Regions from separate parts of the Homo sapiens genome. Here regions 1 and 2 are each linked to region 3. Evidence: fine-mapped expression QTL. A gene starts in region 3. Each other region holds a variant in brackets. All regions are shown on one strand. Distances are from middle to middle. Region 1 has its middle 10 kb from the start of OR2S2. Region 2 holds the start of OR13J1 (olfactory receptor family 13 subfamily J member 1). Region 3 holds the start of HRCT1 (histidine rich carboxyl terminus 1).

Region 1 (4,241 bases), 62 kb after region 3:
CTTTTCTTTTTTTTTTTTTTTAAATAAAATTTTTATTTTCTATTTCTTTTAAAATTTATTTTCATTTTTTAAAAATCTGTCCCCACAATCTATTCTCATAAACTGTTTTCAATTCTTATAATATGTCTGTAAATTATTTTAGATTTTCTCATAGGTCACAAGTAATATCATCTGTGAATAATGATGGTTGTTTTTCTTGCTTCAAAAATTTTAGACTTCTTGTCTCTTTTTCTTGCTTTGCTGCACAAGCTGGTTCCTTCAGTTCAATGCCGAATGAAAAGTGGCAATAGCAAACATCCTTACCTCATTCCCATCTCACAGAGAATACTTTCACTATTTTCACCATTTAGTATGATATTTGCCATAGATTTTCATAGATAACATTCAAAAGAATGTTCCCTTTTGTTCCTGGTTGGCTAAGAATATTTATTATGAGAAGGCATTGAATTATTGTTACCTGTTTTAAAAACCTCTAAACTTTGAAATAATTATAGATCCATAGAAAGTGGCAAAGATAGTACGAAGATGTCTCTTGTATCCTTCTGCTAGTTTCACCTGCTTGTTACACCTTACCTAAATACACAATATTCAATACGCAATAGCATACCAGGAAATTGACATTGGTGCAATGTGTATGTGTATAGTTCTATTTCATTTTATCACATGTGTGGATTCATACGACCACTAGCGCAATCAAGACATGGTACTATTCTATCACCACAAAGGTCTCCCCCATGCTATCCCTTTCTAGTCATCCCTACTCCCCTCCCTTCCCCATCTGTAACCCCTGGCAGCCACTAATTTGTTTTCTATCCCCACAATTTGGTCATTTGAGAATGTTATAGAAATGGAATCATATAGTTTGTAATCTTTTGATACTGACTTTTTCTCACTCAGTGTAATGCTGTGAGGTCTATTCATGTTGCTGCATGTATCAGTAGTTAATTTCTGTTTATTGCTGAGTAGTATTCTATGGCATGGATGTACCAAAGTTTGTTTATTCATTCACCCATTTTAGGACATTTTTGTTGTCCCAATTTTTGGTTATTGCAAATAAAGCTACTGTGAACAATTGTATAGTAGCTTTTTTTGTGCAGACATAAATGTTGATTTCCTGGGATAAATGCCAGAGTGTTATTTAGTTTAGTGTAATTGCTGAGTTATATGGTAAGCATATATTTAGTTTTTTAGGAACTGCCTGTTTTCCAGAGTAGGTGTGTCAATATACACCTCCCACTAATAACGTGTGAGAGATCTAGTTTCTCTGAATCCTTGCCAACTTCAGTGCTGTGAACATGTTTTATTCTACCTGTTTCAATAGGTGTGAAGTGATACCTTATGGTCTTAATTTGCGTTTGCATAAAAGTTAGTGATGTTGAACATCTTTTCATTGCTATTTGCCACTGTATATCCTGTTTGGACAAGATGTCTCTTCATGTATTTTGCCCATTTTCTAATTGAATTATTGTTATTGTTGTTTTATACTGTCAGATTTTGAAAGTTGTTTTGGTGACATCCAAATTTATCTTTTTTTCATGAATTTTGCTTTTTGTTGTTATGCCTAAGAACTCTCCACTATGCTGTATGTTTCAAGGTTTCTCTCCTATATTTTTTGCTAGAAGAGTTATAGTTTTACCCTTTAAATTTAAATCTGCGATCCATTGTGAGTTAATTTTTATTTGTTACCTGGGGTACAAGGTGACATTTCAATATCTGTATACAATGTACAATGATAAAACCAAGGTTTTTTTTTTTTTAGCATATCCATCACCTTGAACATTTAGCATTTCTTTGTGTTGGAAACATTCAAAATACCCTCTTTTGGTTATTTGAAAATATAGCATAAATTATTATTAACTACAGTTACCTTACAGGGCTAAAGAACACTAGAACTTATTCCTTCTCTCTAGCTATAATTTTGCATGCATTAGTCAAATTCTCCCTCCTCCACCACCCCCACTTCCCAGCCTCTAGTTATCACCACTCTATTTTCTACTTCTATGAGATCAACTTACTTCACTTCCACATATTAGTGAAAACATGTGGTATCCATCTTTCTGTGCCTGGCTTATTTCACTTAACATGTCCTCCAGGCTCATCCACGTTGCTGCAAATAACAGGTTTTATTCTTTTTTATGGCCAAATAGTATTCTATTTTGTATAAAAACCACATTTTTTTCGTTCATTCATCTCTTGATGGACACTTAGGTTGACTCCATATCTTTGCTATTGTCAATAGTGCTGCAATAAACACGGGCGTGCAGATAGCTCCTCAACATGCTGATTTCCTTTCCTTTGGATATATACCCAGTAGTGGGATTGCTGAATCACGTGGTAAGACTTTTTAGTTTTTTCAGGAACCTTCATACTCTTTTCCATAATAGCTATAGTAATTTATATTCTCAACAACAATGTGTGCATTCTCTTTTTTTCTGCATCCTTGCTAACATTTGTTATTTTTCTCTTTTGATAATAGTCATTTTAACTGGGGTGAGATGATGTCTCACTGCAATTTTGATTTGCATTTCCCTGATGATTACTGATATTGAGCATTTTTCATATACCCATTGGTCATTTGCATGTCTTCTTTTGAGAAATGTCTATTCAGAACATTTGCCAATTTTTAAATCATATTATAGTTGACCTTTGAACA[G/A]TGTGAGGGTTAGTGACTTCAACCCCCAGCACAATTGAAAATCCATATACAACTTTTGACTCCTCAAAAACTTAATCGCCTACTCTTGACTGGAAGCTTTACCAATGTCATAAGCATTCAGTTAACACTTATTTTGTATGTTATATGTATTATATACTTTATTCTTACAATAAATTAAGTTAGAAAAAGAAAATGCTATTAAGAGAATCATAAGGAAGAGAAAATATATTTGTTATTCATTAAGTAGAAGTGGATCATCATAAAGGTTTTCATCCTTATTGTCTTCATGTTGAGTAGGCGGAGGGGGAAGTAGAGAAGGGAGGGTTGGTCTTGCTGTCTCAGAGGTGGCAGAGGTAGAAGAAAGATTATGTATAGGTGAACCTGTACAGTTCAAACCGCTGTTCAAGGGCCAACTGTATTTTTGTTGTTGTTGGTTTTGGCCACTGAGTTATTTGTATATTCTGGATATTAATCCCTTCTCAGATAAATATTTTCTCCCATTCTGCAGATTGTCTCTTCACTGTGTTGATCAGTTCCTTTGCTGTGCAGAAGATTTTTAGTTTGATATAATCCTCTTTGTTTATTTTTGGTTTTGTTGCCTGTGCATTTGGTTTTGTTGCCTCTGCATTCTTCATAAAAATCTTTGCCCAGACCAGTGTCCAAAAGTGTTTTTCCTATGTTTTTTTCTAGTAGTTTTATAGCTTTGGGTCTTTAATTCATCTTTAGTTTATTTTTGTATACGGTAAGAGATGGGTATCTTAGTTTCATTATTCTGCATATAGGTATCCAGTTTTACCAACATCATTTTTTGAAGAGACCGTCCTTTCCCCAATGAATGTTTCTGGCACCTCTGTCAAAAATCAGTTGGCTGTAAATATGTGAATTTATTTCTGAGTTCTGTATTCTGTTTCATTGTGTTTTTTTTTGTTTGTTTTTTTTTTTAGACAGAATCTTGCTCTGTCACCAGGCTGGAGTGCAGTGGTGCAATCTCGACTCACTGCAACCTGCGCCTCCCAGATTCAAGCAATTCTCCTGCCTTAGCCTCCCAAGTAGCTGTGACTACAGGCATGTACCACCACGCTCAGCTAATTTTTGTATTTTTAGTAGAGATGGGGTTTCACCATGTTGGCCAGGATGGTCTCCATCTCTTGACCTTGTGATCCACCCACCTTGGCCTCCCAAGGTGCTGGGATTACAGGCGTGAGCCACCGCACCTGGCCCCCCCCCCTTTTTTTTTTAATGAGATGGAGTCTCACTGTGTCACCCAGCCGGGAGTGCAATGGAGCGATCTCGGCTCACTGCAACCTCCGCCTCCTGGATTGAAGCGATTCTCCTACCTTAGCCTCCTGAGAAGCTGGGATTACAGGCACCCACCACCATACCTGGCTAATTATTGTATTTTTAGTAGAGACAGGTTTTTATCATATTGGCCAGTCCGGTCTCAAACTCCTGACCTCAGGTGATCCTCCCACCTCGGCCTCCCAAAGTGCTGGGATTATAGGCGTGAGCCACCCCACCCAGCCAGTTTCATTGTTCTATATATTTCTTTTTATGCCAGTGCCATGCTATTTTGGCTACAATAGCTGCA
Region 2 (4,241 bases), 36 kb before region 3:
AACGTGAAAAGGAGAGACGGGCCTAGCCTCCGAGCCTACATCTTTCTCCCATGCTGGATGTTTCCGTCCCTTGAACAATGGACTCCAAGTTCTTCAGTCTGGGGACTCGGACTGGTTCTCCTTGCTCCTCAGCCTATTGTGGAACCTTGTGATCGTGTAAGTTAATACTTAATAAACTCCTCTATCCTATTAGTTCTGTCCCTCTAAGAGAACCCTGACTAATACAGGCCTCATTGCTGCCTCTACTGTCACCTACCAGGGAAGCTGGGCCATTCTCGTCATCTGTGGACTCCGTCTCAGCTCTGCTCAGTTTTGGGAAGAACTCTAGGCTCTGCCATTGTCACCCCTACATTGACATGTTAATATCTCTATTTAAGAAACTTGTGCAGGGCCTAGAGTTGGGCAAGGCTGGACCTTGGGAGAGAGTAGAATCTGACACTCCCTGCTCTTGGAGTAATGCTGAAAACACAGAGGGGCACAGCAAGAGGAGCAAGGTGGGGTGGCTTCCTGGTGGAGGTGGCATTTGAGCTGGGCCTGAAGGGTCAGGCAGTCAGTCCTTTTACATATGGAGAAGTGTGCTGGGGATAGGGGAGGGGGTGCTGCCTCGTGGGGAGAAACAAGGAGAGCACAGAGCTGGGTGGTGCAGGGCATGTGGGGGCCACAACTGGCTGGTGTGTGTGGCTGTGAGGAGGGAGATGGGGTGGGAGGGGAGGAAGGCTGGGGAGCCAGTCAGGCAGGGCCAGCTTGTGAGGGCCTCAAATGCCCCACTGAAAAGCTTCCACTTTGTTCTGAGAACAGTGGGGAGCCACCTAGGGATTTCAGTGAGAAGAGTGATGCAATCACATGTGCATTTCAAAAAGATGCCCCATGAAGGAGAGATTGGAGGGAGGAACAGGACTGAAGTCTTGGGACCAGCCAGGAGGCTGGTGTGAAGGCCAGGGTGATGCTGAGAGCAGAGGGTGATTTGGGGGCTGTTCTGTGGCAGGATCAGCGGGACTTGGTGCTGCCTTGCTGGGATGAAGATACCAGACCTGTAGCCCCAGCCCTGCCATGTCTTCACTGGCATTGGCATACGATGGCCTCAGCTACTAACCTGAGACCTGCGTCTGTACAGAGCCCCGCCCTCCCTCACCTGGAGGCCCGACTCCTGCCCCACACCTTCCTGGCGGCCTCCTTCACCTCCTTGTTCCTCAGGCTGTAGATGGTGGGGTTCAGCATGGTCGTGACCATGGCATAGAGGACTGTGAAGACCTCATCAGAGATGTGGGCTTCCTTACTCTTGGGCTTCAAGTACATGAAGATGATGGTGCCGTAGAAAAGCAGCACTACAGCCAGGTGTGCCAAGCAGGTGGAGAAGGCTTTGCAGCACCTGGCGGCCGAGGGCACCCTCAGGATGGTGGCCAGGATGAGCAAGTAGGACAGGCAGATGAATGCCAGGGGTACAGGCAGCAGCAGGATGGAGCCCGCCAGCAGGAAGTCTTCGCTGACCGACGTGTTGCCGCATGCCAGCTTCAGCACTGCCAGGATCTTGCAGGTGAAGTGACTGACCACGTGGTGGCCACAGAAGGGCAGCCTCATGGAGATGACCATCTCAGTCACCGACTTGAGGAGGCAGAGGACCCAGGCAGCTCCCATCAGCAGCACGCAGAGCCGGTGGCTCATGAGCACGTGGTACCTGAGTGGCTGGCAGATGGCCAGGTAGCGGTCATAGGCCGTGATGGCCAGTAGCAGGCACTCCGTGGAGCCCGTGGACAGGCTCAGACACATCTGGATGGCACAGACAGCAAAGGAGATGGTCTTCCGGGATGACAGGAGGTGGACCAGCATCAGAGGCACAAAGGTGGGCGTGTAGCAGATGTCCAGGGTAGAGAGGTTGCCCAGGAAGAAGTACAC[G/A]GGCGTGTGCAGGTGGATATCTAGCACGCTCACCGCCATGATGGCTGTGTTCCCCAGGAGGGTCACCAGGTACATGGCTGAGCACAGAGGGAAGAGCAGATGCTCCAGGGCTGGGTAGCCAGAAAATCCTTTCAGAAAGAACTCGGACACCTCTGTTCTGTTGAGCGGCTCCATGCTGCAGAGTTCTGAAGAGATGGTCCACAGCTGGGATGGAAGGAGAGAGGGTACAGGGTGCGGGGAAGCTCACAGAGCCCTTTCTGGGACGAGGTGGACTGTCAGGATCTTTTCCAGCACTGCCACACTCACTGTCTGTGACGTCGGGCAATCCCTTTATCCTCTCTAGGCCTCAGTTTATCCATGTGAAAAATGAGCATTGATTTAGATCAGCATTCCCTGAGAGAATGTTAATGAGAACATTAGTAAGCAATCTGAAAAATCAATTTGAGACAACATTGGATTAATAAAAAATAAAGCTCTTTACTGCAGGACTTCTCAGAGCGTTTACTACGCTAATGTGATCTATGACTCCTGCAAAGCAATGTAGAACATCTGTACCCCAAACTTATTTGATCATGGATCCCCTTTTACAGAAAACCCATTAACCTACTGCAGATAAGTGTTCTATGAGCATAGTCTGGGAAACAGTAGGCTAGATCAACAGTTCTCAAACTTTAACATGCACCAGAATCACCTGGAAAGTTTGTTAAAACAGATTGTTGGGCCCCAAACCCAGTTTCTGACTCGGTGCGTCTGGGCGATGCTTCTGCTGCTGATGTAGGTACCACACTTTGAGGAACTAGTGGGCTAGGTGGTCTCTGAGCAGGTGGAGATTCTCCTGGCTTTAAGGAAGCCTCTGAGCCATCGCATTTGCTATTCCTTCTGTCTGGAATGTCCTCGGCCTGCAGTGGTCTGACCTGTCTCTTCAGGCCTACTCTAGTATCCATGAACAAAGCATACACCGTGCTGTGTGTTGGAGGGCTGCTGACCTTGAAGCCTATCGCTGGGCATGTTCCCCTGTCCCCTGCCCAGGGCCTGTTTCATTAGCTACCCTGTGTGGATTGGACCTTCACAATCTGCCTTCCTGTGGGTTTCCCAGCTAAAATCTGATGGAGCTTTTGGCCCAGCTCCAAACCCCTATGTTCTGTGGGCCAGAGCGAGGGCTGCTTTGACTTCATGAACTCCTAGGGTATTAGCATGGAACATGACCAGAGGCCAACTTGTTGGATCTCCCATTGTATAGATGGGGATGCTGAGGTCACACAACAGGTCTCTGGTGAGGTGAAGCTAGAATCCAGCCCTCCCAACAGTGTGACCCCTATACCATGCTCAGAGCAGGTGTATGCTTCTATTAGGTTTCAAACAATGCTTGTTCTTTTACCATTCTAGATGGATATCAGTGCCCCAGGTGCTGCCACAATCCTCTCACCAGCAAAAGAGCATGAGTCACCTCTCCTTAGTGTTCCAGGGTATCTGGCACGGTGTCATTAATCCCATGGGACACGATGCCAAATCCTGGGCCTGGGTGGAGCACAGTTCCTCTCAGTGCCTTCCTTGCAGGAGACCATTTCCGTCTTTTATTCCACCCTCACTTACTCATCCCAGAACCTAGAAGTAACTGAGGACCTGCTACATGTCAGGTGGTGCCAGATGTGAGGGAGCACTGATGACAGGTGTGCTCCCAGGCTGCTGAGTGCAAACCCTTCCTAGGCAGAGAGGACCCCCAAGTCTTCCATACCCAGCCTCACCGTCCCCCCACTCTTCCGTACCCAGCCTCACCCACCCCTCCCACTCTCCCATACCCATCCTTGTCCTCCCCCACCCTCCCATACCCAGCCTCCCCCTCCCCTGACTCTTCCATACCCAGCCTCACCCACCCTTCCCACTCTCCCATACCCAGACTCACCCTCCCCCCACTCTCCCATACCCAGCCTCACCCACCCTTCCCACTCTCCCATACCCAGCCTCACCCTTCCCTCACTCTTCCATACCCAGCCTCACCCACCCTTCCCACTCTCCCACTTTTCCAAAAGTAACTATTGTTATTAGTTTTGTGTATATCTATCCAGATACTTTTCTGGCCATTTGCATATGTATATCTATACATGGAAATAGGTCTTGTGACTTTTTAGTATGCTTTTTTGTTGCAGCTTTATTGAAGGATGGTTGATGTACAACTATATTTAAATCATATAATTTGATTAGTTTTAATGTATACAGTCATGAAACCATGACCACAATCAAGATAATGAACTTATCTAATATACCCACAATTTTTCTCATGCCCCTTGGTAATCCATTCCTTTCTTCCCCAACCAGGCAGCCACTGATTTGCTCTCTGTAACTGTAGA
Region 3 (4,241 bases):
TAGGCATAAATGGGTTAAGTCATGGAGGACTGTATTCTCAATGGCTGTCCCTCACTGCCCCCAGGAGTGCCCAAAGCATCTAAACAAATGTTCACTTTGGGATCCTACTACCCAGATGGAGAGTGAACCTGCACCTAAGGAAACAGATGTCGTGTGTATGTGTATGTGTGAGGGGGCACTCCCAACCCCTGCGCCCTCCAGGTTTATTCACATCTCCACCTCATCTTCCCGCTGTCTCTGTGGAAGGCCCTGCTGATCTCAGGCTGTCACTCTGGACGGCTCCCTCACTGCAGGGATGGTGCTCTGTTGAGTACCTGCTGTATAGATTAGCGCACGAGGCTGGGAGAACTTAGGCAAGTGTTTCCCTTCTCTGGCTTCAGTTTCTCCATCTGTCAGTGAAGGCTGAGTCTGGGTGATTCCAAGGGGCCGTTTGAGCTGACTGAAGTTCTTCAAGTTCATAGTTGTAAGGTCCTGCCCCGCCGCCAGCGGCTGGTGTGGGGTGGGAGTCTTCCTGGAGAAGTTCTGAGGACGAAAATCCCCTGTTTGCCTTCCTCCTCCTCCTCCTCACAACAGACTTCCCTCCTTAACTTCCCTAGGGAAGGCAGCCGGGCTCCCAGGGCCCCAGGAGTCTGCAGGAGGAGTTCTTACTCCAGCATCATTAAAAGTTCAAGTAGCTCCCCCAAGGGCCAAAGAAGTGCCAGGATTCATTAGACCTGCTGCCCCCTGAGCCCAGTTTGGTTGAAGGGAATGTTTAGCCTTTTCATCTGGTGAGGGTTTTCATTAAGGGTTTGAGGCCTCCCTAAGAGAACTCACCTCAGACTGAGGTCAGAGGGGGAAGGGTCCCTGGAGGTCACCTCTTGCTCCGGGAGTTCTGCAGAGGAGACAGGCTGGATCAGGGCAAGGGGTTTGCCCAACATCACAGGGTGGAGGTGCTGCCAGAACTCAGAGAACCAGCCTTGCGGTGTCTGCAGACATTCCTCCAGGCGGTAGGGAGATGAGCCTGGAGGGAGGGGCTGGGGACTCAGCCTGGAGGGACCCTGCAGAGCCAGACACAGAGCTGGGGCTTTGGGGAGCCCCACTGCATGTGAGGAAGAGCTTGGAGAACAGCCCAGCATGCCCACAGCAGAAAGGGTTGCCCAGAGAGAGAGTGAGCACCTGTTGCTGAGGTCTGTCAGCAGGATGGGACGGTGCCTCCCAGGAGGAACAGAGGGGATTTGGGCCTGGCGGGTGGGCTTGGAGGGACAGTCAGTACTGCTCAGATCCTGCCGCTCTGTAAATGCTCCACTAGGCAGGAATGGCACTCATCACTGCTGGGCAGGGAGGGTGTGACAGAGCAAGGAGCATGCCATTTATGGCCAGTTGAGACTGTTGAACTGGGAACCAGGAGGCTGGGCTGTGCCTGCCCTCTCTGAGCTCAGTGGCCTCCTTCTTGCCTCCCAGCAAGCTTGGGAGGACACCCAGACCCTCCTGCCTCCCAGAACAGGCCGGATGGAGGACCTCCCTGGATGGCAAAATCTGCCTGTGGTGCCTCCCTGAGCTTCTCAAGCTCATTGAGCTCGGGATGGCTCATCTGACAGAGCCTGACTCAGCCCCGGAGGGCTCTGCAGGCTGCAGGACAGGGAATCACAGACTCTCAGATGTCAGTGTCTCCTGAGCCATGGAGTCCATTGCAGTAATATCAGTTGCAAACATGACGGGAGCTGGTGTTGCTGCTTTACGCATCTCAACTCCTTTAGTCCTCGGAACACCCTACTGAGGAAGGAACCGTTATCAGCCATTTTACAGAAGAGGAAACAGGACAGAGAGGTTAAGTAACTTGTGCACAATCTCAGAGCAAGTGAGTGGCGTGGCTCCAAAGCCCGTGTTGTTCATCTCTGTTCTACACAGTCTCTACGAGAGGAGACTGAAGTGCGGAGAGGGAAGGTCACTGAGCCAGGCAGCAGGAGGGTTTCTTTCCTCTAGACTCAGGGCTCCTCCCTCAACCAGATCCAGCCTGACAGCTCCTCTGTCTCCACCTGGCCTCCCTGCCAGGCCTCCTCAGAGTTAACAGCGGCCTGGCCTCACCCTTGGCCAGCAGTTGCAAGTCCAAACAGGCTTCGCCCACATTCCCTGGCTGCTCTCCAGCCCGCAGCAGAGACAACAAAGTTCAGTGACTGAGAGGGCTGAGCGGAGGCTGCTGAAGGGGAGAAAGGAGTGAGGAGCTGCTGGGCAGAGAGGGACTGTCCGGCTCCCAGATGCTGGGCCTCCTGGGGAGCACAGCCCTCGTGGGATGGATCACAGGTGCTGCTGTGGCGGTCCTGCTGCTGCTGCTGCTGCTGGCCACCTGCCTTTTCCACGGACGGCAGGACTGTGACGTGGAGAGGAACCGTACAGCTGCAGGGGGAAACCGAGTCCGCCGGGCCCAGCCTTGGCCCTTCCGGCGGCGGGGCCACCTGGGAATCTTTCACCATCACCGTCATCCTGGCCACGTATCTCATGTGCCGAATGTGGGCCTCCACCACCACCACCACCCCCGCCACACCCCTCACCACCTCCACCACCACCACCACCCCCACCGCCACCATCCCCGCCACGCTCGCTGAGGCTGCTGTCGCCGGTGCCTGTGGACAGCAGCTGCCCCTGCCCTCCCATCTGTTCCCAGGACAAGTGGACCCCATGTTTCCATGTGGAAGGATGCATCTCTGGGGTGAACGAGGGGAACAATAGACTGGGGCTTGCTCCAGCTGCATTTGCATGGCATGCCCCAGTGTACTATGGCAGCAGAGAATGGAGGAACACTGGGTCTGCAGTGCTGAAGGGTTTGGGGAGTGGAGAGCAAGGGTGCTCTTTCGGGGCTGGACAGCCCGTCTTGTGACAGTGACTCCCAGTGAGCCCCAGAAATGACAAGCGTGTCTTGGCAGAGCCAGCACACAAGTGGATGTGAAGTGCCCGTCTTGACCTCCTCATCAGGCTGCTGCAGGCCTCTGGCGGGCAGGGCACTGGGAGAGGCCCTGAGAATGTCCTTTTGGTTTGGAGAAGGCAGTGTGAGGCTGCACAGTCAATTCATCGGTGCCTTAGTCCAAGAAAATAAAAACCACTAAGAAGCTTTTGTGAAGAGGCTCTTGATTGCAGCATAGTGGGAGGGAGGGAGCTGCCTGGCCTGTGTCCTCATTGCCCTGGGACCTCCCTCTCTGATGGGAAGCGTGTGGCTGGAGCAGGCGGCTTCTGTCTGGTTCTTAGGGGCTGGTTGTGGAGTGGGAAGAATTGGGTGGGCTCTGTCTGAGCTCTGAGGGAGGATTCAGGGTTTGCACAAAACCCTGCCCACAGCAGGTCCTGTGTGCACCAGCAGGGCTCTGGCCTTCCGCGGGACAGTCCTCGGGGAGAGGAAGGTTGGAGCCGCTGCGAGCCTGGCTCCCCAGGGCTCTGCCCCTGTACTTTTTTCAGCCCATGTCCAGGGCAGACTGAGCTCTGAAACTCGAGGAAGCCCCATCCACAGGCTGCCTTGAATCCAGTTTCCTTGGTAATTGGATCAGGGTTTCTTCTCCAAGCCTTGCGTTTTCAGCCATCCTGCCCCAGCTGGTGCCTGTGTGTGGTGGGAGGGCTGGGAGGCAGCGAGTGGAGTTCTTTAAAGTGGAGGCTGTGGTGCTGGGGTGCAGGGTGTTGGATGGCCTTGGGAGAATGCTGGGGTCTCACTTTCCTCTTCTCTGCAATGGGGTGGATAACAGAGATGCCCACGTGCCGAAGCCTGGAGGCTCGTTGGAATATGCTCTGTGAACAGCTAGTGGGATCCACAGCGAGGAAGGAAGCCTGGCTCTGAGGCCTTCAGCCTGTGCCTGTGAGCTGAGGTGGGAATTGGGGGAAGACAAGGACTGGGGGCCAGGAGAGGCAGTGGGGAGGGGCTGGAGAGCAGGCCAGAGACTCAGGGACCTGGTGACTCACTGGAATAGAATGTCCTCTTTCCTTTCTATTTCCCAGTGGATTCTCTGTGAGGGCTGCAGGAGGAGGGAGTGAGAGAGAGAGGGAGGCAAATTCACACTGATTTCTCCCACCTGAGGTTTCTGGGTTGGGAAAGTTGACCCTAGGCTGCCGTGCAGTGTCGATTTTCTCTGCAGTGTCCTTCAAATCCACCCCCTTCTCCATTCCCATGCCCTGCCTAGCCCAGCCCCCTCCATCCCCCTCCTGGATTCCTGCCAGCCTGCTCCCTGCAGCCCTGCCCCTTTCCCAGGCATCTCCAGGCTGATTTCACAGATGAATCAAAGATG

Evidence for each region. PIP is the estimated chance that this variant, and not a neighbour inherited with it, causes the effect. A credible set is the group of variants that fine-mapping cannot tell apart.
Region 1: its variant is the best candidate, but not a certain one, in a credible set for the expression of HRCT1 in lung (TOPMed, PIP 0.86).
Region 2: its variant is the best candidate, but not a certain one, in a credible set for the expression of HRCT1 in cerebellar hemisphere (GTEx, PIP 0.73).

What each region holds. Positions count from the first base shown.
Region 1 is chr9:35,966,013-35,970,253 of GRCh38, forward strand. No RefSeq gene overlaps it. Among named protein-coding and RNA genes, the nearest start is that of OR2S2, 10 kb to the left of the region's middle. The variant G/A (reference allele first, on the strand shown) is at 2,654.
Region 2 is chr9:35,868,335-35,872,575 of GRCh38, forward strand. It overlaps OR13J1 (olfactory receptor family 13 subfamily J member 1), which reads right to left and starts at 2,067. Exons shown (of 1, transcript NM_001004487.1): 1 at 1,129-2,067. The coding sequence starts at 2,067. The coding sequence ends at 1,129. The variant G/A (reference allele first, on the strand shown) is at 1,894.
Region 3 is chr9:35,904,054-35,908,294 of GRCh38, forward strand. It overlaps HRCT1 (histidine rich carboxyl terminus 1), which reads left to right and starts at 2,149. Exons shown (of 1, transcript NM_001039792.2): 1 at 2,149-3,083. The coding sequence starts at 2,235. The coding sequence ends at 2,582. It overlaps LOC124902149 (a long non-coding RNA gene), which reads right to left and starts at 1,617. Exons shown (of 3, transcript XR_007061471.1): 1 at 315-1,617. RefSeq lists an enhancer at 815-1,696.